Homo sapiens: one gene and its partners. The protein of the gene in region 1 interacts with the protein of each later gene in a pairwise test. Each region holds a gene or a part of one and is shown in the gene's direction. Other genes may lie near its edges. The genes, in order: ZNF620, C22orf39, NOXA1 and METTL21A.

What was found.
Region 2: the proteins of ZNF620 (region 1) and C22orf39 interact in binary tests that used the Homo sapiens proteins (3 or more experiments, as listed by UniProt).
Region 3: the proteins of ZNF620 (region 1) and NOXA1 interact in binary tests that used the Homo sapiens proteins (3 or more experiments, as listed by UniProt).
Region 4: the proteins of ZNF620 (region 1) and METTL21A interact in binary tests that used the Homo sapiens proteins (3 or more experiments, as listed by UniProt).

The regions. Positions count from the first base shown.
Region 1 is NC_000003.12:40,501,926-40,509,042, forward strand, and holds the start of ZNF620 (zinc finger protein 620), read left to right. Parts: upstream 1-4,113; 5' UTR 4,114-4,213; exon of another isoform or gene 4,214-4,275; intron 4,276-4,378; 5' UTR 4,379-4,427; coding exon 4,428-4,451; intron 4,452-6,815; exon of another isoform or gene 6,816-6,849; intron 6,850-6,887; coding exon of another isoform or gene 6,888-7,022; intron 7,023-7,117. UniProt on the Homo sapiens protein: May be involved in transcriptional regulation.
Region 2 is NC_000022.11:19,444,679-19,452,007, reverse strand, and holds the start of C22orf39 (synaptic plasticity regulator PANTS), read left to right. Parts: upstream 1-4,296; 5' UTR 4,297-4,319; coding exon 4,320-4,343; exon of another isoform or gene 4,344-4,462; coding exon 4,463-4,630; intron 4,631-7,329. Other genes in the region: UFD1 (ubiquitin recognition factor in ER-associated degradation protein 1), read left to right, coding at 1,264-1,338. UniProt on the Homo sapiens protein: Negatively regulates long-term potentiation and modulates adult synaptic plasticity. Stabilizes the interaction of RTN4 isoform A/Nogo-A with its receptors, inhibiting clustering of postsynaptic AMPA receptors at synaptic sites.
Region 3 is NC_000009.12:137,426,378-137,433,412, forward strand, and holds part of NOXA1 (NADPH oxidase activator 1), read left to right. Parts: exon of another isoform or gene 1-1,655; coding exon 1,656-1,764; intron 1,765-2,063; exon of another isoform or gene 2,064-2,239; intron 2,240-2,504; coding exon 2,505-2,639; intron 2,640-2,898; coding exon 2,899-3,006; intron 3,007-4,244; coding exon of another isoform or gene 4,245-4,373; exon of another isoform or gene 4,374-4,398; intron 4,399-4,406; coding exon 4,407-4,466; intron 4,467-4,697; coding exon 4,698-4,723; intron 4,724-4,858; coding exon 4,859-4,964; intron 4,965-6,651; coding exon 6,652-6,697; intron 6,698-6,827; coding exon 6,828-6,886; intron 6,887-7,035.
Region 4 is NC_000002.12:207,612,232-207,615,422, reverse strand, and holds the end of METTL21A (protein N-lysine methyltransferase METTL21A), read left to right. Parts: intron 1-1,979; coding exon 1,980-2,377; 3' UTR 2,378-2,684; downstream 2,685-3,191. UniProt on the Homo sapiens protein: Protein-lysine methyltransferase that selectively trimethylates residues in heat shock protein 70 (HSP70) family members. Contributes to the in vivo trimethylation of Lys residues in HSPA1 and HSPA8.

The DNA.
Region 1 (7,117 bases):
CTGTAATCCCAGCTACTTGGGAGGCTGAGGCAGGAGAATCACTTGATCCCAAAGGTGGAGGTTGCAGTGAGCCAAGATCGCACCACTGCACTCCACCCTGGGTGACAGAGCAAGACTCTGTCTCAAAAAGAAAAAAAAAGGCACTTGTTCAAGAGTAGGGCTGTCCACAGTTAGACCCTGCTAAGGAATGACTGTTCGTTATCTCACCTCCTAATTACAGGGAAAGAGTGTGGTCTGGCCCCACTCAGATCATATATTCATTCTTGATTAATTCAACTATGGGTGGGGGAGCAGAATTACACAGTATTTACACAGCTATCTGGGACTCACTGCTGTTGGTGAGGAGGGCAGTTAAAGGGGCTGTTGTATGCTGATAGATACTCTACAAAGACCGTACCATGTTGAGCATATACTTCCTAGACTAAGTTCATTTCCCTCAACACTCCATGCCAGAGGCTCTTAACCCAACTGCCCATTAGAACCACTTGGGATGTTGTGTTTTTGTTTTTGTTTTTTAATACCAATGCCTAGGCTGAATCCTAGACCAATTATTTCAGAATCTCTGGGAGCAGGTCCCAGGTATCAGTATTTTTTTTTTAATTCCCTAGGTAATTATAAGGTGATGCTACAAAGAACCACTTTTTTTTTTTTTTTTTTTTTTTTTTTGAGATGGAGTCTTGCTCTGTCACCCAGGCTGGAGTGCAGTGGCGCGATCTTGGCTCACTGCAACCTCCACCTCCCAGGTTCAAGCAATTCTCCTGCCTTACCCTCCTGAGTAGCTGGGATCACAGGCATGTGCCACCATGCCCAGCTAAATTTTTTTTGTATTTTTAGTAGAGACAGGGTTTCACCATATTGGCTAGGCTGGTCTCAAACTCCTGACCTCAGGTGATCTGCCTGCCTCAGCCTCCCAGAGTGCTGGGATTACAGGTGTTAGCCACCGCGCCCAGCCAAATAACCACTTCTGTAGACCTTTGCTACTCAAATTGTCACCTGAAGACCAGCAGCATTGGCATCACCTGGGAGATTTATCAGAACTACAAGCTCACTGAATCAAACTCTACTCTTTGACAATGCTACCAGGTGACTTCGTGGACACACTAAGGTTTGAGAAGCATTACTCCAGACCCTGCTCCATGTGTGTGTCTTGGCATCTAATATTGCCAAGAAGAAGTCTGAGGCAGCCTGATTTTGCTTCCTTTTCAGTCTGGAAATTTGCAGAACTTTAAATCTTAAATTTTCGTAATTTCACTAGGATATGTCTTGTTGCTGGTTTTTCCCCATTAAAATTTCCTAGAATTTAGAGAGCATTTTCAGCCTGCAGATTCTCCTCCCTGATGAATGGCTTTTTCCTTCAAGTTTGTCCTATCAGGATTAGAACTAGGGTTAGATTTAAGGACACAACCCATTTTAAGATTATGTTGTCTTTCTAGTATGTATATATTTTTTAAATTGAGGTATCACTGACATACAATAAGCCATGCATAAAGTGTATGATTTGATAAGTTTTGCCATATGTATATGTCTCTCAAAAAATAACACAATCAAGATAACAAACATAATCATACCCCAAAAAGTTTCCTTATGCCCTTTTATAATCTCTCCATTCCAGCCTGCTCCTCTCCTGCCTCCAGCCCCAAGAAACCACCAATCTGTTTTCTTTTACTATAGTTTTCCTTTTCTAGAATTTTATATAAATGCTATCACACAGTATGTACTCTTTTTAAAGTTATTATTTTTTTTGGTGTGATGTCTTTCACAACACAGAATTATTTTGAGATTCACCCATGTTGTTGCATATATATCAGTAGTTCATTCCTTGTTATTACTGAGTAGTATTCCACTGTATGGATATGCCACAACTTAACTCAAATGATGGCCATTTGAATTGTTTCCAGTTTTTGGCTATTATAAATTAAGCTGTTATGAAAATTTGTATGCAAGTCTTTGTAATGTAAGGACATATGTTTTCATTTCTCTTGGGTAAATAACAAGAGTGAAATGGCTAGATAATAAGGTAGGTGTATATTTAATTTTTAAAGAATCTGCAAAGTTTTTCCAAAGAGACTGTGCCATTGTACATTTCCATCAGTATTGTATGGGTTCCACTTCTGATACATCTTTGCCTACACTTGATGTTGTCTCTACTTTTAGCTTTTCTAGTAAGTGTGTAATACTGTTTCACTGCGGTTTTAATTTGCATTTCTCTAATGACTAACAATGTTGAGCATCTTTTCAAATATTTAATTGCTTTCCATATATCTTCTTTGGTGAAGTATCTGTTCAAATCTTTTGCCTATTTTTAAAAATTGGTTTATTTTCTTATGAGTGAGTTTTGAGAGTCCTTTATATATTTTGGAAACAAGTCTTTTATCAAATATTTTTGGTATTTTCTCCCAGTCTGTGGCTTGTCTTTTCATTCTCTAAAAGTATCTTCTGAAAAGCAGAAGATTTAACTTTGATTAAGTCCAATTTATCATGTTTTTTTCCACTGGCTAATACTGTTTAGAATTTGTGGTGTATATGTATGTACGTTTATGTGCACCCACTCATGGTAAATGTTCATTTTAATAGGTTTAGCGAAGGGACAGTATGCACATGTATGTCCTTGTCATGCCATTGTTTCTGGAAATCTAATTATTTAAAACAAGTGCTGTGCATAAACTTTAAAGTGAAAATACTATAGATTTTATAAAATGAACTGTTTCTGTGACAGTTAAAATCTCTGTGCTAGGTGGCCCCACAATGGCTCCCAATGGTTCTCATATCCTGGCATTCAAACCTTGTGTATCTCTTCCCACACTGAATCATGACTAATCTGAGGAGAATGTATTGAGGAAATCATGATGCATGATTTCCAAAACTAGGTCATAAAAGCTTTGGCCTTGGCCTCTTGGATTGCTCACTTTGGGAGAAAGCTACATGCCATGTTGTGAAAACCCTCACATGGGAAGGAACTGACGCTTCCTGCCAACAACCAGCACCCACTTGACAGCCATGTGAGTAAACCACCTTGGAGGTGGATCCTCCAAACTCAGTCAAGCTTCAGATGACTTCAGCCCCACATGACACCTGACTGCAACCTCAGCAGAGACCCTCAGCCAGTACCACCCAGCCAAGCTGCTCTTGAATTCTGGGTCCACAGAAACTGTCAAAAGATAACAATGTTTATTGTTTTTAGCCACAAAGCATTAGAGTAGTTTATTATCCAGCAGTAGATACATAATATACTCTCCATGGCAGGACTTGTTTTGAAAGTGGTGGATAAATCTAATTCCTGTGGAAGGAATAACTAAAATCTGTTTCCAGGCTGGGCCGGGACACACATCCCAGTACAGGGCAGGAAAGGGCTCTAAGCCAAATGTTAATAGCTCTTTCGCTAAACTTCGAAAATTGTCCTTAAAAAAATCTATTTCCCTAAAGCACGCCACATATTGGAGTCCCAGCAGCACCTATTTTGTGTCTTCAAAAAACACAATTGGAAAACAAAACAATACAAACTCACGAGTACATACTATGTGCCAGGCACAACTGTAAATAATTTACCTATCAATTAACTAATTTAATGAATTAACCCTGAACAGCCTCAAGAGGTTGGTACCACCATCATAATACCCATTTAATAGACAAGGAAACCGGGGCAAAGAAACTTGCTGCAGGTCACACAACTAGCAAGTGGTGCAGCTGGGTTTCTGGACCTACGTAGTCCATACACATTCGGCCTTCTGAGTAATGGGTTCGCCTTTCCCCACACCCACTTTTCCCACTGCAGCGCACCCACACAATCCAGACAGTTTTGGCGCATGTGAAGGGCGCGATGGTCCCTTCATTATCTGGAAGGACACCCAGAGTGGCAAATGCCAGATAACCACGAATAATACCCAGGATAGTAACCATTCTGTGGCCTGAGCTGGCCAGACGTCATGCCCCGAAGGAGCTACCAGGTGTGGGCGCTGCAGGACCCCTGCCTGGGGCCGCCCGCTCGGGCCCGTGTTGTCTCAGGCAGTAGGGACACTGGCGCTGACGGCGGGGGTAGGAAACCACAGAGACTGGCAACTTCCCAGGTTCCTAGAGAGGAGGGGCATGGAAAACGCACTTCCGGCGGAGGGTCTCAAGCTTTCCCCGGTGTCGGCGGCAGGTGGAATTTCCACGCTTTATCTGCGCCTGCGCCGCGCGGGATTCGCGGTCCGAGCTGAAGAGGTTCGCGGTCCGGGTAACTGATTGGTTTTCCTGGGGCTTGTTCTGCCTGGTTTTGCAACCCCTTTGCTTTTTGGGGTGAGGAGTTGGCGGAAAGGAGAGGGGCCCAAGTAGCACAGAGGGCATTTGCGGGGTGCGAGGCAGCATCAATCTCACCGGTGCTTCTTTATTTTCTCTTCAGTTTCACTTCTCCGAACCCTGAGGCAGTGTGTGAAGCTGGGACGCCAGCCATGTTCCAGACCGCTTGGCGCCAGGTGAGTGAGCATCCTCTCCCTCCCTCCCACCCTTTAGATGTCAAGAGAGAGCAGGTGTCACCTCTGCATTCAGATCTTGAGTTGTGTAGGCCAGTGGCTTCCATTGTGCATCTGTCACTATGAGAGGGATGGAGAGGTGAGAATGCCCAAATTAAGACTAGAAAACTAGTGAGTGTGGGGGGATTGGTTGGGATTTGGCATTTGAAGCCAGCTTAAAAATAAAAATTATGAAATGTGGAAATCTGCATTATTACATCCAATAAAGACCCCTTTCACCCTAGTCCGCAGGCTTGGAGAAGTACTTACTTCTTCAGTATAGCAATTCTAGTAACTGTTTTGTAGATTCCATTGTATTTTCTACATAGGTCATCTATGAGTAAAGATAGTTTTACTCCTTTCTTTCCAGTCTGGATGCCTTTTATTTTATTTTGTCTTGCCTTACTGCACTGGCTAGAAGCATTATTTCAATATTGAACAGAAGTGGTGAGAGCAGATATCTTTGTCTTATTTATGCTTTTAAAGTGAAAGCATTCAATCTTTCACACTGAAGACTGATGTTCACTGTAGGTTTCTTGCTTTTTTGTTTTGTTTTGTTTTGTAAATGTCCTTTATCAGGCATTCTCTTCTAGTACTACTTTGGTGAGAGTTTTTATAGGAATGGATGTTGGATTTTGACAATTGCTTTTTCTGTGTCTATTTAGATGACCATATGGTTTTTTTTTTTTTTTTTTTTTGAGATGGAGTCTTGCTCTATCGACAGGCTGGAGTGCAGTGGCGCGATCCTGGTTCACTGCACCCTCCACCTCTGGGGTTCAAGCGATTCTCCTGCCTCAGCCTCCCGAGTAGCTGGGACTACAAGCACGCGCCACCACACCCAGCTAATTTTTGTATTTTTAGTAGAGACCAGGTTTCACCATGTTGGCCAGGATGGTCTCGATCCCTTGACCTCGTGATTCCCCCACCTTGGCTTCCCAAAGTGCTGGGATTACAGGCGTGAGCCACCGTGCCCAGCCTCTCTTTGTTAATGTGGTGAATTACATGATTTTTCTTTCAAATATTAAACCAACTCTGCGGTGGGATAAAACCGACTTCGTCATGGTGTATTATTATTTTATTAGTACTATATATTGAATTTAATTTGTTAAAATTTTATTTAGAATTTCTGTATCTATGTTTATGAGGTATTGATTTGCAGTTTTCTTTTCTTGTGATGTCTTTGTTCCATAGAATGAGAAATATTCCCTCCTCTTTAATATTTTGGAAGAATTTATGTAGAGTTGACTGCATTTCTTCCTTAAATGTTTGGTAGAATTCAACAGTGAAGCTATCTAGGCATGGGGTTTTCTTTCTGATAAGGTTTTTAAGTACAGTTTTGAGTCCTTTGGTAGATACAGGGGCTACTCTGGTTATCTCTTTTTATTTATTTATTTTTATTTTTTGACAACGGTTTTCTCTATGTTGCCCAGGCTGACCTCAAATTGGGCTCAAGCAATCCTCCCCGCTCAGCCTCCCAGGTACCTGGGACTACAGGCATGCATCACTACGCCCAGCTTAAATGAGTTTTGGTAACTTGTGCCTTTCAAGGAACTTATCCATTTTATCTAAGTTGTAGAAATTATTCACATAAAGTTGTTCATAATATGTGCTTATCTTTTATTACCTGCAGTGATGTCACTTCTTTTATTACTAATATTAATGATTTGTGTATTCTCTCTTTTTTTCTGGTCACTGGCTAGAGGTTTATGAATTTTATTAATTTTTCTTTAAGAACTAGCTTCTGGTTTCATTACTTTTCTGTTTTATGTCATTAGTTTTCACTTTGATCTTTAATGTCTTTTTTATATTTATTTTGTGTTAAATTTGCTATTCTTTTTTTAGTTTTAAGGGGGAAGCTGAAGTCACAGATTTGAGATCTTTCTTTTTTTTTTGTTTTGTAAAATAGGCATTTAGTGCTATACATTTCCTCCCAAGTACCGCTTTAGCATTATCCCGCAAATTCTAGTACATGGTGTTTTCATTTTCATTCAGTTCAAAATACTTTGTACATTCTCTTATGGAAGTGTGTTACTGACTTTACAAATATTTGGGGATTTTCCAGGAGTCTTTCTGTGATATCAAATTTAATTGCATTACAGTCAGAAAACATACTTTGTATGACTTGAATCATTTTGATTTTATTGAGCTTTCTTTTATGGCCCAGAATATGGACTGTCTACCTATCTACATTGTCTTATATGAATTTAGCCACTGCAGCTTTTTTTTTTTTCTTTTTTCCTTAGAGACAATCTTACTCTGTCTCCCAGGCTGAGTGCAGTGGTGCAATCACAGCTCACTGCAGCCTCCACCTCCCAGGCCTAAGTGATCCTCCCAAGGAGTTGAGACTAAGTTGAGACTACAGGTACAGACCACTGTGCTTGGCTCTCTTCTTTTTCCTAGAGACAAGGTTGCCTAGGCTCTTCTCAAACTCCTAGATGCAAGCCATCCTCCCGCCTCCACCTCCCAAAGTGCTGGGATTACAGGCATGAGCCACCATGCCTGGCCTTACAGTTTTCTTTGGCTAATGTTGTCATGGTATGTCTTTTTCTATTCTTTTGCTTTTAATTTATCCCTGTCTTTATATTTAACGTACATTTCTTGAAGGTTCTTCAAGCAATGTACTATCTTAA
Region 2 (7,329 bases), on another chromosome or scaffold:
TTCTCAGGAAGCTCCTAGGAGGTGTTCCTCACTAAAATGAAGGAATAAGGTAGAAATAAGAAAGTCATAGAATCCAGGAAATAAGGAGCCCCCACTAACATGTACGGCACCTAGAGAAAGGCCAGTCCAGGTACGGCAGGGCGAAGGCCCAGGAGACACAGGTTTGTCAAAACAGATGAACTCCATGCAATGCAGGCTGTGATTGAATAGAGGAAGAAGCCAAACACAGCTATTGACACCAGGATGAATGGAAGGCTGTGCGGCAAAGGAAGACTAAATGCAGCTGTGACTCAAATTTACATGAATGTGACCACATAAATACTAAACAGTGCTCTATTGCAGGTATAACATGCTACAGTTAGTGGGGAGCCAGGTGCAGGGATGTGTGTTGAACATTCCAGAATCCTCTTCTTCCTAGGGAAAAGTTGAGATAATGCCTCAGACTGACTAGCAATAAAAGCATGTGAAAAAAAATATGTGCAGTTTTCAAAGGTTTGGGAAAAAACAATCCCTCTTTCTGCTGATGGAAGGATAGCTTAGTGGAATGTTTCTGAGGGCTGGTTGGTCTCTATATGTTAAAAGCATTAAAAGTGTGTACACACTTTGACCCAGGAATTTGAGCTCTAAAAAAAATCAGAGTTGTGTGCAAATACATTAAGCTGCTTACCACAACAATGTCCACTGGTAGAAAACTGGCCCTCCTACATCATGGAATTCTTTTTTACAGAATTCAGTTCTGTAGCCTTGGGAGTATACTAGACAGGAAGTTTATTGGCATGAGATTTCAGAATTAAGTGGGAAAACAATTCTTTAAGCATGTACAGAAAAGTGACCTGAAATGTTTTTGGGTGATGAACTTACAGACTTTTTTTTTTTTTTTTTTTTTTGAGGCAGGGTCTTGCTCTGTTGCTCTGCCATCCAGGCTGGAGCAGTGGCACAATCATAGCTCACTATGGCCCTGGCTCAAACCATCCTCCCGTCTCAGCCTCCCAAGTAGCTGGGATCATAGGCACATACCACACTGAGCTATTTTTGGTAGAGATGGGATCTCACTATGTTGCCCAGGCTGGTCTTGAACTCCTGGGCTCAAGTGATCCTCCCACCTAGGCCTCCTAAAGTGCTGGGATTACAGGTGTCAGCTATCGTGTCCAGCCTGAGATATTTCTTATGAGTAATGTGGATGGTACGTGAGTCCATAGAGTAAGGCATTTATTGTAAACCTCCAGGGAGTTTCTGAAAATAGTATCTTCTCTTCAAACCTAGGATGAAGCTGGAGGCAGATTCGTCGCTTTCTCTGGAGAAGGACAGTCATTGCGTAAAAAGGGAAGAAAGCCCTAAGTGAGGACTGTTGGCTGATTGGAAAATAATAAAAGAATCATTTGCAACATCTTGGCTTTTAGTTACTGGCACTGACAGGGACGAGCCTCATCAGAGAATACTCTGTTACTTAAGATTTATTTAGAGTTACCTAAGAATTATTAAGTTTGACTTGGAAGTGGAGCAGCAGGACTTTGTAGTTGTATGCTTGATTTGGGGAAAGACAAAGAGCTGTCCCTGAGGGCCTGTAGATAGCTGCCTCCTCACCTCTTCACGCTTTCAGCTTGAGGGGAGCTCCCACTGCCTCAGCAGGAGCAATTCTGCATCCCTAATTCTGTCAAAACCTATGAAGGTGACTAAATTGTCTAACATGAAGTGTTCTTTCTTTTTCTTCATTTATCCTTTCTTTTCCTACATCAATTGCATAGGTGTCAGTCTTTGGCCTAAAAAAAGGCTTTAAATAGACATGTGTTCTATAAGTAGTGGCTGTCCCACTACTGTGGCTGCAATTTAAGTATTTGACAAAGAATGTTTCTATTTTTATTTTACATATTTTTTTCAAAAACACCACTCAGAAGAACCTGATCTGAATGAGTTTGCACTTTTATTCTCATTTCATATGGACATAACTGGCTCCTTAGTGAACCTGTTCATAGTGAAACAACTCCATGGAGAAGCAAACATGTGAATGTTAGAATGAACAAATGCTAAAGAGATGTTCCTCTCCTTCTTCCCTACTCCCCAACTCCCAATTTTAATTTATTAAATCATCCAAGCTTCTGCTGGCCTGTATTTTTTATCAGTATTTATTTGGTCTTAGATCTTCACTTTCTATAACGTGAGATCTTTTGACATGCTAATCTGATTATTTTAAATTTGTTCCCATGAGCCACTGTGCCTGGCCCCATTGGGAATAATTCTAAGCCAAGAATTTCAAGTAAAAACAGGCAATAACTAAAGCCTAAATCTAAATGTTTGATTAGGTACTAACACAGACTGGTGGTTGGGCCTCTGACCATAACTGAAGGCCTGTTGGCAGGTGCTCCGTGTTCCATCTCACCATTAGAAAAGTGTCCCTCTGGGGCTTCTCCTGGAGAAAGTAGGAAGAAACAAGGCTGCCTGATCCCTAGGTGGCAATGGCTAAGCCCAGCAGGGTCCCCCATGAGCCAGGGCTAACCCTGCTTCCAGACATGGGGGTCCTGCCCTGGTCAGGGCCCCTCCAACACTCCAGAGAGGAGAGAATGGTGGCCCCAGGGTCTATCCACGTCTTCAGTGAAGAGTGTCTATGAGTGTCATGATGTTCAGTACTTGGCCTGTGGCACAAACCATCATCACTGGAAATGGGCGTGGTTTTGGAAGGCATGAGCACTGTGGGGACTTACCTGAGCCTCCACTGACAAAGTCTCAGTTTTACTAGCAGAGGGAGAAACCCTTGGTGGGTAGACAGCCTTCATTTGCAGGATCACATCAGCTAACAGACTGTCACTTTATGCATAATGAAGAATGTTACAGTACCTCTGGCTCTGGGTTTTTGTCTTCACTAAGCAACACCTGCTGTGTATGCAGTGAAACGCCTGGTCCTTTGCTGGAGGCACACTCCCCTGCCTGGACCAGGATGGATTCCATTGCAGAGCCTTTTAATGACACAGTGGGGCCAGTTGGAGCACTGATCCTGGTCATTACTCCTGCACCCTGGCCTGCAGCCTTCCTCTCAGTGTCTTATTTGGGCTTGGTCCTTGAGCCGGCTGCCTCAACAGCAGGACCCCTGGTAAAACTGCAGCTTTCTGATCCACCTCCAGGGAGTCTGTCCCAGTGTCATTCCTGGGACTGGCCCAGCAGTCCCAGGATTTGTATCAGTGGATACTGAGGATTTGTTATCAGTGAAGTGGGAGAACCGCAGCATAGGTACTGCAGGGCGTTTCTGCAAGCCCACCAGCCTCCTCTTTACTTGCCTTTGTTGCCTCTTGTGCATTGCTCCTTTTTATAAACGTCCCAGCCAGGCACTGGCGCTCCGCCTATAATCCTAGCACTTTGGGAGGCCAAAGTGAGAGGGTCGCTTGAGGCCAAACTAGCCTGGGTAACTTAGCAAGACCCCATCTTTACAAAAAAAAAAAAAAAAAATTAAAAATTAGCCTGGTGAGGCTGTGCATGCTTTTGGTCCCAGCTGTTCGGAGTCCAGGAGTTTGAGGTTGCAGTAAGCCATGAACACGCCACGCCACTGCACTAAGCCTGGGTGACACAGCAAGACCCTGTCTCGAAAAATGAATAAGGTAAATGTTACATGTCTCCCGCACCCTTAGAATAGAACTACAGACATCCAAGCCACTCCTACCCCGCTCACCCCTGCTACACACCGCCTCCATACCTTTGACCGGCCTATGGCTGTACTCGGATTGCATTCTCAGCCTCCACTTCAAGCCTGCGTTCCCTGGGGAGGTCATTCAACCCTAGATCCACCATATGTCATGCCCAACCAATCTCAGTTACTTTGCGAGTTCACCTCCATCCTGAGTGGACGCTCAAGCAAGACTGCTGGAGCTGCAGATCTGGGAGGTTCGCTGCACCACCTTGATGCTCAGTATGTACTTTTGAAAATATACCGGATTGTTGAGATTTGAGAAAATCTCATAAAGCTGCTGAAAAGAACTGGCCAGAGCCGTGTGATTTGAGAGGCGGCTGACGTAAGGTAGCTGCGCGGCCCAGGATGCCCGCCTGGCCCGGGGTGAATGGCGCTGTCGTCGCGGTGGTCGCGTAGGCTTCGCGCCAGGTCTCGCCCCGGATTTACCCTGCGACCCCGGCCCTCCGCGCGCGCCGCAGCCGCCCTCGGTTGCTATTGGTTGCTCGTCCTGTTTGTCGGCGCTTCTCGAAGAAGGGGGCGAAGACGTGATTGAATGTGTCGGTGCTCATTAGTTCTTCTGTCAGTCGATCACGAGGTGCCGTTTTCTTCATTTTTCATTGGCTGGCGGACTGAGGGGCGGGCTTGGCGCGCCGGTCGCCCAGACATGGCGGACGGCAGCGGCTGGCAGGTGAGTGTGCTGGGTCGGAGCCGGGAACCACCGGGGTCTTCCGGAGGGAGGGAACGGGACTGGCTCGGGGCGTAGGGCGCGGCCGCCGGGCCCCGCTCAGGCGCCGCCTCTCGCCGCAGCCGCCGCGCCCCTGCGAGGCCTACCGCGCCGAGTGGAAGCTCTGCCGCAGCGCCAGGCACTTCCTACACCACTACTACGTCCACGGCGAGCGGCCGGCCTGCGAACAGTGGCAGCGCGACCTGGCCAGCTGCCGCGACTGGGAGGAGCGCCGGAACGCCGAGGCCCAGGTGCGCCGGGAGGGAGCGGGGCGGCGCTTCGGAGCGCCTTGCGGGGCCCAGCTTTCCCCACCCCTCCACGCCCCATGCCCCGCGACCTAGCCGGGGACTGACGGGGTCCCTATCCTCCTCACGCTTCCTTTCTTTTGAGAGATTGTGTAAATTAGCATATCAACAGGACTTTCAGAGGGCGTGAAAGACAAAGGAGGAGACCAGCGAGGAGGGGGTGTAGAGTGGTTTAGAGAGGGAAGAGGGCAGCCGTCCGGTGTTAGGGTCATCAGCTGGCCTACGCAGGAGGTGATGTTGCTGAGTCCTGAGTGACCAGGAGCCAGCCTTCATCCAGCCCCGGTAGACACCGCTGAGAAACAGATAAGGCCTGGGTTCCTGAAGCAGAGGGTAGGTGGATGGTTGGAGAGCGGTATACCAGGGACCTGGCGGGCCTTTTGATACGGAGTTTAGAGTTTAGTCTAAAGTGTGCTGGGAGGCATAATTCGATTTATATCTTTAAAAGATCAGTCTGTTAGCAAAGTGTGGTGGCGTGCACCTGTGGTCCCAGCTACTTGGGAGGGTGAGGCGGGAGGATCGCCTAAGCCCAGGAGTTCAAAGCTGCAGTGAGCTATGGTCACACCACTGCACACCAGCCTGGATAACAGAGGGAGACCTGTCTCAGGGGGGAAAAAAAAGAGAGAGGGTAAAAGAAGTTCAATCTGTTTGCTAGGGTGTAGAGAATATATTACAGGAGCAGAGAGACCGGTAAGGAGGTGGTTCTAGTTGTTTTTTCGTCCAGCAAATATGTACCACATTGGGTGCTCTTGGGGATGCACGAGTGATAAGAAGAGTCTCTGCCCTCCTGGCACCCACACTGTAGTGTAGAATACAGTGCTACGGTGGACCCCTTGTGGGAGAGGAGATGGAGAGAAGCCAGCCGAAAGGTGCGAGGCTCATGGGGAGTGCCAAGGAATGAGAATCAATGGGACTGATCAACACTTCAACATTATTAAGTGTATACAGTGATCTGAAAGAGATGAACTGATGTGGAAACCAGACTGCTGTATAAAAGAAAATGATGACTATTCCATAATATGTGAAAGTCAAAAAAAGTAAGAAAGCTGACAGCTTATATAGCAAGAGATTGATAACTTTAATGTATATATATGTGCGTGTGTGTGTATAAAGAGCTGTTATATATATATCAATAAGAAATATAGGGATTATTTCAGAATGGAAAAATGGCCAAAGGACACAAAGAAGCAATTCATTAAAAAAGAAAGCCAGCTGGGCATGGTGGTGGGCACCTGTAATCTCGGCACTTTGGGAGGCCGAGGCAAGGGGATCGCTTGAGCCCAGGAGCTTGAGACCAGCCATGGGCAACATGGTGAGACTCCATCTTTATAAAAATAATAAAAAAGGAGAAAAGCCTGGGCATGGTGGCTCATGCCTGTAATCCTAGCACTTTGGGAGGCCGAGGTGGGCAGATCACCTGAGGTCAGGAGTTTGAGACCAGCCTGGCAACATGGCGAAACCCCATCTCTACTAAAAATACGAAAATTAGCCACGCATGGTGGCAAACACCTGTAATCTCAGCTACTCGGGAGGCTGAGATAGGAGAATTGTTTGAACCTGGGAGGCGGAGGTTGCAATGAGCCGAGATCGTGTCACTGCACTCCAGCCTGGGCAACAGAGTAAGACTCCCTCTCAAGAAAAAAAAAGAAAAAATCAAATGGCCAGGTGTCAGGTATATAAGTCTAAATGACAGTAACAGCAGAAAGTGGTGTTGATAGAGGTTTGAAGAATTCTGGGTAGTTGTGCAGTGTTGGTGGGGGTGTCAGGTGTTCTGATTATGTAAATGTCAGATACATACCTTTTGACCTTAAGTTTTACTTCTGGAACTTTATCCCAGGGAAGTAATTGGATAACAGTGTACAGTTAAAAGTTAGAATGCTAATTATGTTTTTGATACTGCAAAAGCTGAAAACAACCTAAATTTCACTAATAGACATTTGACCAAATAGCTTTTTCCACAAAGTGAAATACCAGATAGCCTTTGAAAAGAATGGTCGGTCATCTCCCTGGGTATGGAAAAGTGCCTACAGTGTATTGTTTAGTGAAAAGAAAGCAGGAAGTAGACTAGCCAGCAAAAGATTATCCTATCTTTAGGGAAACATGTTAGCTCTAAAATGTGGACCAAAAAAAGATATCAGGGAAGCTGTTAACTGCCGCATTGGGAATGGACATTTGGGAATCTTTAATATTCTGTACTACATTTCTGATAGCTTTTTAAACACGATCAAAATATTTTATTTGAGGCAATAGAGCTTGAACAAAGACAGACATGTAGACAGATTAAGTTATCTGTGTAAAGAGGCTCACATAGCACCTGATACCTACCAAGGGCTGACAGCAAAGGTCACCCATGTTGTGATACACTGACTTGTGTCTGTATTGGGAGACAGTAGCCAAGAGAAGCTGATGGGTTAAGTGGCACTTGTGGCACCACTCAGGCGGGTGGTCTGTCCTCTGGACTCTTCCCACCCTTCCAGGATACCCAGGACATGTATTTCTTCCCCGTCTTCCTCCCTTCTCCCTAACACACTCCTCCCTGCAGCTCCCCACAGCTGCTCTCTCAGACTCTTCTCTCCTCTCCACCCAGCACCCCCAGGCTCACTCTCAGCAGGTGAATATGCCCCAGACTCACGAGGTCAACCAGAGCC
Region 3 (7,035 bases), on another chromosome or scaffold:
CTGCAGAGTCCACTCCTGCACCTCCTCCTCCTCCCTCTCCATCCACTCCCTCCTCTTGCCCACCCCCTCCTCCATGGTTCCTGGCTCCAGGGAAACCTGAGACTGTGGCCCTCGCCTCTGCTGAGCGCCACCCTTGGACACAGGTCGTGGGGTCCTCACTGCTTACCTGGGCTCTCTGCACCATGTCCCTTCCTAAAGGAGGAATGAGGGAAAGGAGACCATCGGGACTGCAGACCAGGCCATGCCTCGGCCTCTCTGCTAGACACTCACAGGCCCCATCCCAGGAGGGCAGGCTCTGTGGGGAAGTGGATCACAGTCCCGAGAGCCTCGCAATCCTGAAATATCAAAACCCCTCAAATCTAAAATCCCAAAAAATATAATTCTAGAAAAAATAAAATTCTGTAAAAGATATTTATTTACTTTTTAAAAATTGTTTTGAGAAGGAGCCTTGCTCTGTCATCCAGGCTGGAGTGCAATTGTGCGATCTCGGCTCACTGCAACCTCCGCCTCCTGGGTTCAAGCGATTCTCCTGCCTTAGCCTCCCGGGTAGCTGGGATTACAGGCATGTGCCACCACGCCTGGCTAATTTTTGTATTTTTAGTAGAGACTGGGCATCACCATGTTGGCCAGGCTGGTCTCGAACTCCTGACCTCAGGTGATCCACCCGCCTCGGCCTCCCAAAGTGCTGGGATTACAGGAATGAGCCACCTCGCCCAGCCTATTTACATATTTTAAAGGGATTTATTTGAGAAACATAAAAACACGACGGAACCCTTCATTGGCCGATAAAATAGACAAAAATAACATACATATTTTTTCAAGCACAAATTCATGCACGCTAGCGACAGGCTCACGGGTGTGAGAACTACGAGCAGATGAACAGTGCTCATGAGGAGCTAGGTCAGAAGGGGTAAGACGTAGGTGCGTAGACTCTGGCTGGTGACTGTGTGCACCTGGCTTTATAACTGGTCATCAAAACACCAAGATGAACAACCCACCTTCTAACAAGATCCATCAAAGGCTTCAGGGACCACCACATACGCAGTCGCCCAGAGAGCCCGGATCTGGAGATATTTTACCTTTCAGAAAGGCAGATGAACGAAAAAGCCATCTCTTCCTTTACTGAAGAGTCCCAGCATTCGGGATTATGGCTGTGGGACTGTCCCTTTCTGGATTACGATCCAGACCCCTCTGGGGCAGCCTCTCCTTCACATCGGCGCGGGAAGCCCGCCTGGAGGAGAGGCCTCTCCGGCAGGCGCTGGGGAGCTCCCAGCAAGGCTTGGAAGGAGGCTCAGAGTTTGGAGGGGGAGCCCCCATGGGGTGGGGGGCCTGAGAAGCAGGAGGGAAATAACCAGGGCTCTCTGCACGGTTCAGAAGAGAGGCTTGGGGGCGGGCAGGGGCCCAGGAAGCTGAGTCTGAGCTGGGAAAATGGTGGAGCCCCAGCACACAGTGACCCCCACACCCACTCAGCACACATGTGCATGGACCCCTGGCCCACCAGACCTGAGTGTGCAGACCTAGGCACCGCACTGCCCTCCCTCAGGTCTCCTTGGAACCAGGTGTTGGGGGCGGCTCGAGCGGGGCTGGTGTGAAAGCTGCCTAACCACAGCCCCATCTCCGCCCTGTGCTGCTGAGGGGACCCCGGCTGCCCACAGGTTCCAGGAGGCTCTGTCTGACTTCTGGCTGGCCCTGGAGCAGCTGAGGGGCCACGCTGCCATCGACTACACGCAGCTGGGCCTGCGGTTCAAGCTGCAAGCCTGGGAGGTGAGGCCGGGCAGGGCTCACTGTGCTGCTGGCTGTGGGGTGTCCACGGGCGGTGGCACTGTCACAGGAGGGCCCTGTGGACTGGGGAGCGCCTCTGGCCGAAGCTCTTGGTGCCATGGAATACCCTGGCCACTCCTTGACCCGCAGGAGGTTCTGGTGGCAGTGGAGGTGGAGGGACCATTTTGTGCCATTTCAGGCCACCAGGGGTGGCTCCACCCAGAAGGAGGGCAGAGGCGAAAGGCTGCTGGGTGGGCAGGGAGCAGGCAGGGGGTTGTGCCCACCCTCCACTGTGCCCCCAGCCCTTTCCTGGCTGCCTGGAACGTGTTGGCACCGAAGGAGGGGTGCTGAGAGGCCCCCCCACCAGACCCCGGAAATGCATCGCCCTGAAGCCTTCTGGGAATAGCATTGTCTTTTAGGACAAAAAGATGGAAGGGAAAGCCCACTGGTGTGGGTCTGGAGTCAGGGTTAAAGCCAGGTGGGGGCCCGCCAGCCCAGGACACAGAACGGTGCAGGGGAGGGGCCGGGTGGGGGGATTGGGAGAGGAGCTGGGTGGGGAGACGGGGGAGAAGCCAGGTGGGGGGACTGGGGGAGAGGCTGGGTGGGGGGATGGGGGAGGGGCCAGGTGGGGGGACTGGGGGAGGGGCTGGGTGGGCAGACCGAGGGAGGAGCTGGGTGGGGGAACCGGGAGAGGGCCTGGGTGGGGCATCAGGCCCCTGCCATCACCTTGGCCCCACTCCCAGGTGCTACACAATGTGGCGTCGGCACAGTGCCAGCTGGGGCTCTGGACAGAGGCGGCCAGCAGCCTAAGGGAGGCCATGTCCAAGTGGCCGGAGGGGTCCCTGAATGGCCTGGACTCAGCCCTGGACCAAGTGCAGGTGAGGAGTGCCAGCCCGGTCATGGTTTTGGGCTGGTGCCTACCAAAGCTCCTCAAGACCAATTTCATGAGATGAAGAAGCTTCCGGAGGGAGATGGCCCTAGTGCCCAGTTTCGGGTGCCAGGCGGGGGCTTCCTGTGACCTGCGGGAAGGGGGTGGGGGGCCCAAGCGGCCCCTTCTGCTCCAAGGCACAGGGGCTCTGCGGCTGCAGGCCTGGTTGGTCACCCCGTCTGCATCTGCTGGATACCCACCCCCTCCAGAGACGGGGCTCACTGCCGCCACGGCAGGTCCCCAGGGGCGAGGTCTTCCGGCCCCACCGGTGGCACCTGAAGCACTTGGAGCCCGTGGATTTCCTGGGCAAGGCCAAGGTAAAGGTGGGGACGGCGTCCTGGGGCATGGCGGCTGGTGCTGAGCCCTCGAACTGTGTTCCCAGGGATGGGGGGAGGTGCAGTCCAGGCCACCGTAAGGGCCAGGAGGGTAGAGAGTGGGCCCACAGCCATCCTCAAACTGGCGCCCACGGTAGGGGGGCGGTGCCCCAAATGGGGCTGTGAGCTTGAAGGCAGAGCCCACTAGAGCCGGCTGCATAGGAGGGGGCTCCAGCTCTCTCAACAAGGACCCTGCAGGTGCCACCCCGCCCCCAGACTGGGCCATGGCCACAGCCACAGCCTTGCAGCCTCCCAGAGTCCCTGCGTCTCTCTGCGTCCTTTCATGCCTTTGTGTCTCCCTGTGTCCCTGCCACAGACAGCGAGGTCCCGGGGGGGTCCCTGCGTCCCTGCCACAGATAGCGAGGTCCCGGGGGGGTCCCTGCGTCCCTGCCACAGATAGCGAGGTCCCGGGGGGGGGGGGTCCCTGCGTCCCTGCCACAGATAGCGAGGTCCTGGGGGGATGCCTGTGTGCCTGCCACAGATAGCGAGGTCCCCGGGGGGGTGCCTGTGTCCCTGCCACAGACAGCGAGGTCCCAGGGGGGTGCCTGTGTCCCTGCCACAGGTAGCGAGGTCCCGGGGGGGGTGCCTGTGTCTCTGCCACAGCTAGCGAGGTCCCGGGGGGCGGGGGTGCCTGTGTCCCTGCCACAGATAGCGAGGTCCCGGGGGGTCTCCCTGTGTCCCTGCCACAGATAGCGAGGTCCCTGGGGGGGTCCCTGTGTCCCTGCCACAGATAGCAAGGTCTCACGGGGGCAGGGGCTGCAGTCCGACGGTCTGGGCCACGTCACGCCCACACTTGGGTCAGAGCCAGGCAACACCCCTAAAGTCACAGGAATGGGGAGCTGCTCACCCCCAAAGGCAGCGGGCGAAACATGGCGGAGAAGAAGAACTCCTGGTGGGCAAAGACTGGGTCACCCTTGGCTGGCCACGCCCCGGACTGGCCACGCCCCATTGGCTGGCCACGCCCCCTCGGTCACCTGCGCTGCGCCACGGCCGACTCCTGGGCCCAGTGCAGCTGCCCAGCAGGGGAGGCCTGGGGTGGGCGAAGCCGGGCTCTGAGCTGTGTTAATGCATTAACTTAGAGTCCGCATATCACAGTAGAGTGCTGTTTATAAGAAACCAAAATGTTTTTAAAGTTGTGCTAAAAATAAGTTAACATTGCAGCAGATGTTTTTCTCCATCAGACATTTCCCTCCATGGTGGTCTGGCAGACGTGGGCCGGGCATGGGCAGCTGTCACCCAGCCCCCGGGGACTTAGAGCTGCGGGGCACGGTGGGGCGGGCTGCAGGGAGCAGACCCTGCTGGGCCGCTGATCCCTGACCCAGCGTCCCCACTGTCCCCGCCAGGTGGTGGCCTCTGCCATCCCCGACGACCAGGGCTGGGGCGTCCGCCCTCAGCAGCCACAGGTGGGTTTGCGGCCCCTCAGACCCCTGCCTGGCCTCACCCAGCTTTCTGGGAAAGAAAATGCTGCACAAGCTCTGAGCCCTCCTGGGGCTGCGAAGTTCCTCTGATGGGAGGTGTGGGGTGGCCATCCCATCCCTGTGTAAGACCTGGGGAAACCACTCTTCAAGGTTCAGGAGGAGGGAGGGCGGCCCCCGACCCTTAACCAGAGCGAGGTTGTTGCTTTGTGTCCACAGGGACCAGGAGCGAACCATGATGCCAGGTAGGAGGGGCTGACTGGGCCCTGCGAGCGCGTGCCTTTCCTGCTGGGCAGAGGCCCTCCACATGGGGCCACGCGGGCCGGGCACAGGAGGGCAGTCAGATGGGCAGGGCCTGAGAGCCTCCCTCCTCTCCCTAGGTCCCTAATCATGGACTCCCCAAGAGCTGGCACCCACCAGGGCCCCCTCGATGCAGAGACAGAGGTCGGTGCTGACCGCTGCACGTCGACTGCCTACCAGGAGCAGGTGCGTGGGCCTGGGCCTCTTCCCCTGCTGGGGGTCGGTGCTTCTGCTGCCTCCGCAGACTGGGGACCACAATGGGACCAACATGAGGGTGGAGGGAGCAGCTCGCTGGGGGGTAGACGGGGCCGGGCTCACCCGTGGTCCTGGCCCAGCCCAGCCAGATGGGAGGATGCCTGGCTGTGCCCGAGGCGAGTGGGCATTGGCCATCAGGACAGGAGAGAGGTGGTGTCCAGTGGAGACATCCACGTAGCCCTGCAGGCCCTCAGCCCCCAGGACCACCTCAGTTTGGCCATTGCCCCTCCCCTCCCACTGGGGTGCGAGTGACCAGGAGTGACCCAGCTGGGGACAGGCGGGAGGCAGGACAGCTCTGGAGGGGCCCCAAGGCTCCCGCCCCCCATGGGGGCCCAGCAGCGACTCCATCCCCCGAGTCCTCCCGGACACCCCGGCACCTGGGGAGAGGCGGAGGAAGGCAGGAACCCCAGCTGCTCCCAGGGTGGCAGCCGTGGGCGGAGGCTCTGCTGCAGGATCCGGGAGGCCCAGAGAAGGCACCTGCATTTCACGCTGAGCGCATCTGAGGATGCGATCAGGAAGCAGCCCCGGCACTCTCTCTTTATGGATGCCCACTTCCAGTTTAACCGTGGCATCCCGGGGGCAAGGGCGCCCTCCAAGCTGTGCTTCACTAATTCCCTCAGGGTTTGGAACTATTTGCCCAGTTCCCACGATGGGCCTTTAAGCTCTCGTCCTTCCTAACCTAAGGCAACTTCAACCATCTGATAAATCTAATAATAAGTTACAATCGAGGCCGGGCACAGTGGTCTGTAATCCCAGCACCGTGGGAGGCTGAGGTGGAAGGATTGCTTGAGCCTGGGAGGTGGAGGCTGCAGTGAGCCATGACAGTGCCACTCCACTCCGGCCTGGGCAAGACAGCAAGACCCTGTCTCAAAAAAAAAAAAAAAAAAAGCCAGGCGAAGTGGCTCACGCCTGTAATCCCAGCACTTTGGGAGGCCTAGGCAGGCGGATCACAAGATCAGGAGATCGAGACCATCCCGGCTAACATGGTGAAACCCTGTCTCTACTAAAAAATACAAAAAATTAGCTGGGCATGGCGGCGGGCACCTGTAGTCCCAGCTACTCAGGAGGCAGAGCCAGGAGAATGGCGTGAACCCAGGAGGCGGAGCTTATAGTGAGCCAAGATGGCGCCACTGCACTCCAGCCTGGGCGACAGAGCGAGACTCCCTCTCAAAAAACAACAGCAATGCCTGACCCTCAGGGTCTAGCCAGCGCTGGGCTGTGACTTTGTGACTTGCAGCTGGTGAACTGGTCTCCTGCTCAGTGCCCAACTCAGGGCACACGGTTAATGTCGAGCCCACACAGAGGCCGGGGCCCAGGGACTGGGTCCTCAGCTTCCTGGGGTCACTGGGGAGCCCACCCACCTGGAGCTGCCACCTCGGTGGGCCTTGGGGGACGGGGCGCTCCCTCCTGGTGACAGGCAGCCTCTAGGTCTGCAGGGACCCAGCCCCATCCTAAGGCAGCCGACTTGTGGCCAGTGCCCTGAATTCAACACCCACAGACCACCTGCTGGGTGCTGGCCGGGCACACAGGCCACACCCTTGGTGTGGGCTCTGCGAGGACAGTACCGGCCTCCAGCACCTGACCGCCCCAGCCCACCCAGCCTGTGCTTCTCTTGCAGAGGCCCCAGGTGGAGCAAGTTGGCAAACAGGCTCCTCTCTCCCCAGGTATGGGCGTCCTCAGCGGCGGGGTCCCCGGGTGAAGGAGGAAGCTGCTGGTGCATGGGTGCCGGCTGCCCTCCACCCACAGGGCCCACTTTGGTGGTAGTGGCTGTGTCAGTCTTGCTCTGTCCTACAGGGCTGCCGGCAATGGGGGGGCCTGGCCCCGGCCCCTGTGAGGACCCCGCGGGTGCTGGGGTAAGAGGCTCTAGACCCTTCACCTGTCAGTCACCTGAGGGAGGCTGAGGCCAAGCCCCATCCCTCAGAATCAAGGCTTGCAAGCCCCCCTCACCTGCCCAGTCTCTGTCCACACCCCTCGGGCTGAAGACGGCCCTGACCAGGCCCTG
Region 4 (3,191 bases), on another chromosome or scaffold:
CCTGGCCTAAAGTTGTTCTTTTAAGTGCAGCCTTGACCTCCTGGGCTCCAGTGATCCTCCCACCTCAGCCTCCTGAATAGTGCCACCACGCCTGGCTAATTTTTTTATTTTTTTGTGGAGATGGGATCTCTCTATGTTGTCAGGGCTGGTCTTGAACTTCTGGGCTCAAGTGATGCTCCTGCCTCGACCTCCCAAAGTGCTTGGATTACAGGTTGAGCTACTCGGCCTGGCTGTCTGCAATTTTTATTTTCAGAAAAGATGAAAACTGTCATTGAAATCTATCCATTGGGCAACACACTGTCTAGCAACGAATGGTCAAAGTGGTAGGTTCAGGCTTGTAAAATCTAACAACTTGAGCATTTTCATCAGTATCTCATAGTAGGACTGTAAATGTCAAATTGAATTACTGCCCTAACTTATGTGTCAAGATAAGAAACACTGAGTATCAGCTGCCACTGAAATAGTGCTTATTGCAACTAGTCTGGAATCCTGTGGGAAGATTACCTATGAAGATTACAAACTGAAGAAGGATGCAAATGGAAAGAATTTTATGAAAGATTGAAACATAATTTTAAATTTCAGAATTTCTGGGGTCAGAAGTAAAGAGTACTACACATATTATATCTTTCCTACAACGTAGATGAGGTGGATCCGACCTGACCTTATGTGCTTGCTCCACCTTAAGGTCTTCTCTTACCCACATTGGTTCAAAAAAAAGGATCTTTTTGTCAACAACCCATAAGAAACAGTTTAGTTTTTCTACACTGTGTGTAGAAACTTAGCATTAAGAACAAGCATTTTAACCTACATTAATAAAATTAAGTAATTTTTAAGCTTACAATTTTTCAAGAAATACGTAAAACATGTAAGTTGGCTGCTTCATAACAGCCTAAGGAGAAGTGGACTGGGATTTCTTAGTAGCCAATTTATTTCTTCCATGATTCTTTTTTAAACTGTAACCTTACAAAACAGCCTTTCTCTGTTTTTGGTATCTTGTCATCTTTGCAATAATAGTCTGCTCCCAGATATTTTTTTTTTTTTTGAGACTGGGTGTTGCTCTGTTGCCCAGGCACAATAACAGTTCACTGCAGCCTCGATCTCCCATACTCACATGATATCCCACCTCCGCCTCCTGAGTAGTTAAGACCACAGGTGTGCACTGTGCTTAATTAAAAAAAATTATTTGTAGAGATGGAGTCTCCCTGTGTTACCCAGGCTGGTCTTGAACTCCTGGGCTCAAGGGCTTCTCCCACCTCAGCCTCCCTAAGTGCTGGGATTACAGGCATGAGCCACTGTACCTGGCCTGCTCCCAGATATTTCATTCTTGGATTCCATTTTAGCCTGCGGCCAACTGACTTAAAGATAATGACCCAATGAATAAAGTATGGGCCAGCTCTGTTGGCAGAATTCAGAAGCATCAGCCGTGTCACTGGTTAATTCTACTTTTTTTTGAGATGGAGTTTTGCTCTTGTCACCCAGGCTGGAGTGCAGTGGCGAGATCTCAGCTCACTGCAACCTCTGCCTCCCAGGTTTAAGTGATTCCCCTGCCTCAGCCTCCCGAGTAGCTGGGATTACAGGTGCCCGCCACCATGCCTGGCTAATTTTGTATTTTTAGTTGGCCATGTTGGCCAGGCTGGTCTCCAACTCCTGACCTCAGGTGATCCACCCGCTTTGGCCTCCCAAAGTGCTGGGATTAAAGGCATGAGCCACCACACCCAGCCAATTCTGCAATTTATAGGCACAATTTTAGCAAATAGCAGGTATGTCATAGAGGCAAATCAAGAGTCACTTCTACCAGTAGTTAATGCAAAAGGAGCTGTGAGTCATTTTTCTATTGCAGCTGTCCATGAAAGGTGTGATTGATATTATGCATATCAGATGCAATATTTAAGAGACACTCTACATTTAACTTGACCCCCTCTCTACCTAACAGAATTGTACTGATGTACACATCACTTTTTCTTTGTTCCACATTGTAGGTGCTCATGTGACTATCACGGATCGAAAAGTAGCATTAGAATTTCTTAAATCAAACGTTCAAGCCAACTTACCTCCTCATATCCAAACTAAAACTGTTGTTAAGGAGCTGACTTGGGGACAAAATTTGGGGAGTTTTTCTCCTGGAGAATTTGACCTGATACTTGGTGCTGATATCATATATTTAGAAGAAACATTCACAGATCTTCTTCAGACACTGGAACATCTCTGTAGCAATCACTCTGTGATTCTTTTAGCATGCCGAATTCGCTATGAACGGGATAACAACTTCTTAGCAATGCTGGAGAGGCAATTTACTGTGAGAAAGGTTCACTACGATCCTGAAAAAGATGTACATATTTACGAAGCACAGAAGAGAAACCAGAAGGAGGACTTATAATTGGCTATAATTTATAAGAATGTTGTCATTGAGTGTGTCACTTAAGGTCTTAGACTGCAAATCTAACCATATTTAATGAAATGTCTTACTGTACAAAAAGTCTAAGCCAAAGGTTCTCAGGGGAGAAAGCACATGTGCAGTTTTAAAACAAAGCAGTGCTTTGTCCCATTGCTGTGATTTTTAGTCAGACTTTACTCAGTCTGAAATGCAATTAACATTAAAGGATTAAGTGTGAGATTTCGATTTATGCTATTTGTGTATCCCATACTCCTCCCTTTTAATAAACAGTTTCCACTGATGATATGAAGGGCCGGTATAAAGAAGTCTTTAAATGAGTAAGCTTTCTTGGTAAGATTAAATCTTACAAATTATTTTTAAAACCTTGTGATATATACAATGTTTAGCTGAGTTTTCTAATTTTCTGGATGTAAAACAAAAGGTTTAACCTATACATTCCTTGAGCTGTTAGTGCTATTTAAATCTTTTGCCCTGTTTAGGTCCTAAACACTTTTAGTTGAGTAGGATATGAGCTTTTTTGGGTCTCATATCATGCTTTTTGCCTTAATTTCAGGTATATATATATATATAAATAAAGGAATTAAGTAAAAATAAAATTTCAGTTACTTTTTAAAAGCACCTGAAATCTGGCCGGATGCGGTGGCTCATGCCTGTAATCCCACCACTTTGGGAGGCCGAGGCGGGCAGATCACCTGAGGTCAGGAGTTCAAGACCAGCCTGGCCAACATGGTGAAACCCCATCTCTACTAAAAATACAAAAATTAGCCGGGCGTGGTGTCAGGCGCCTGTAATCCCA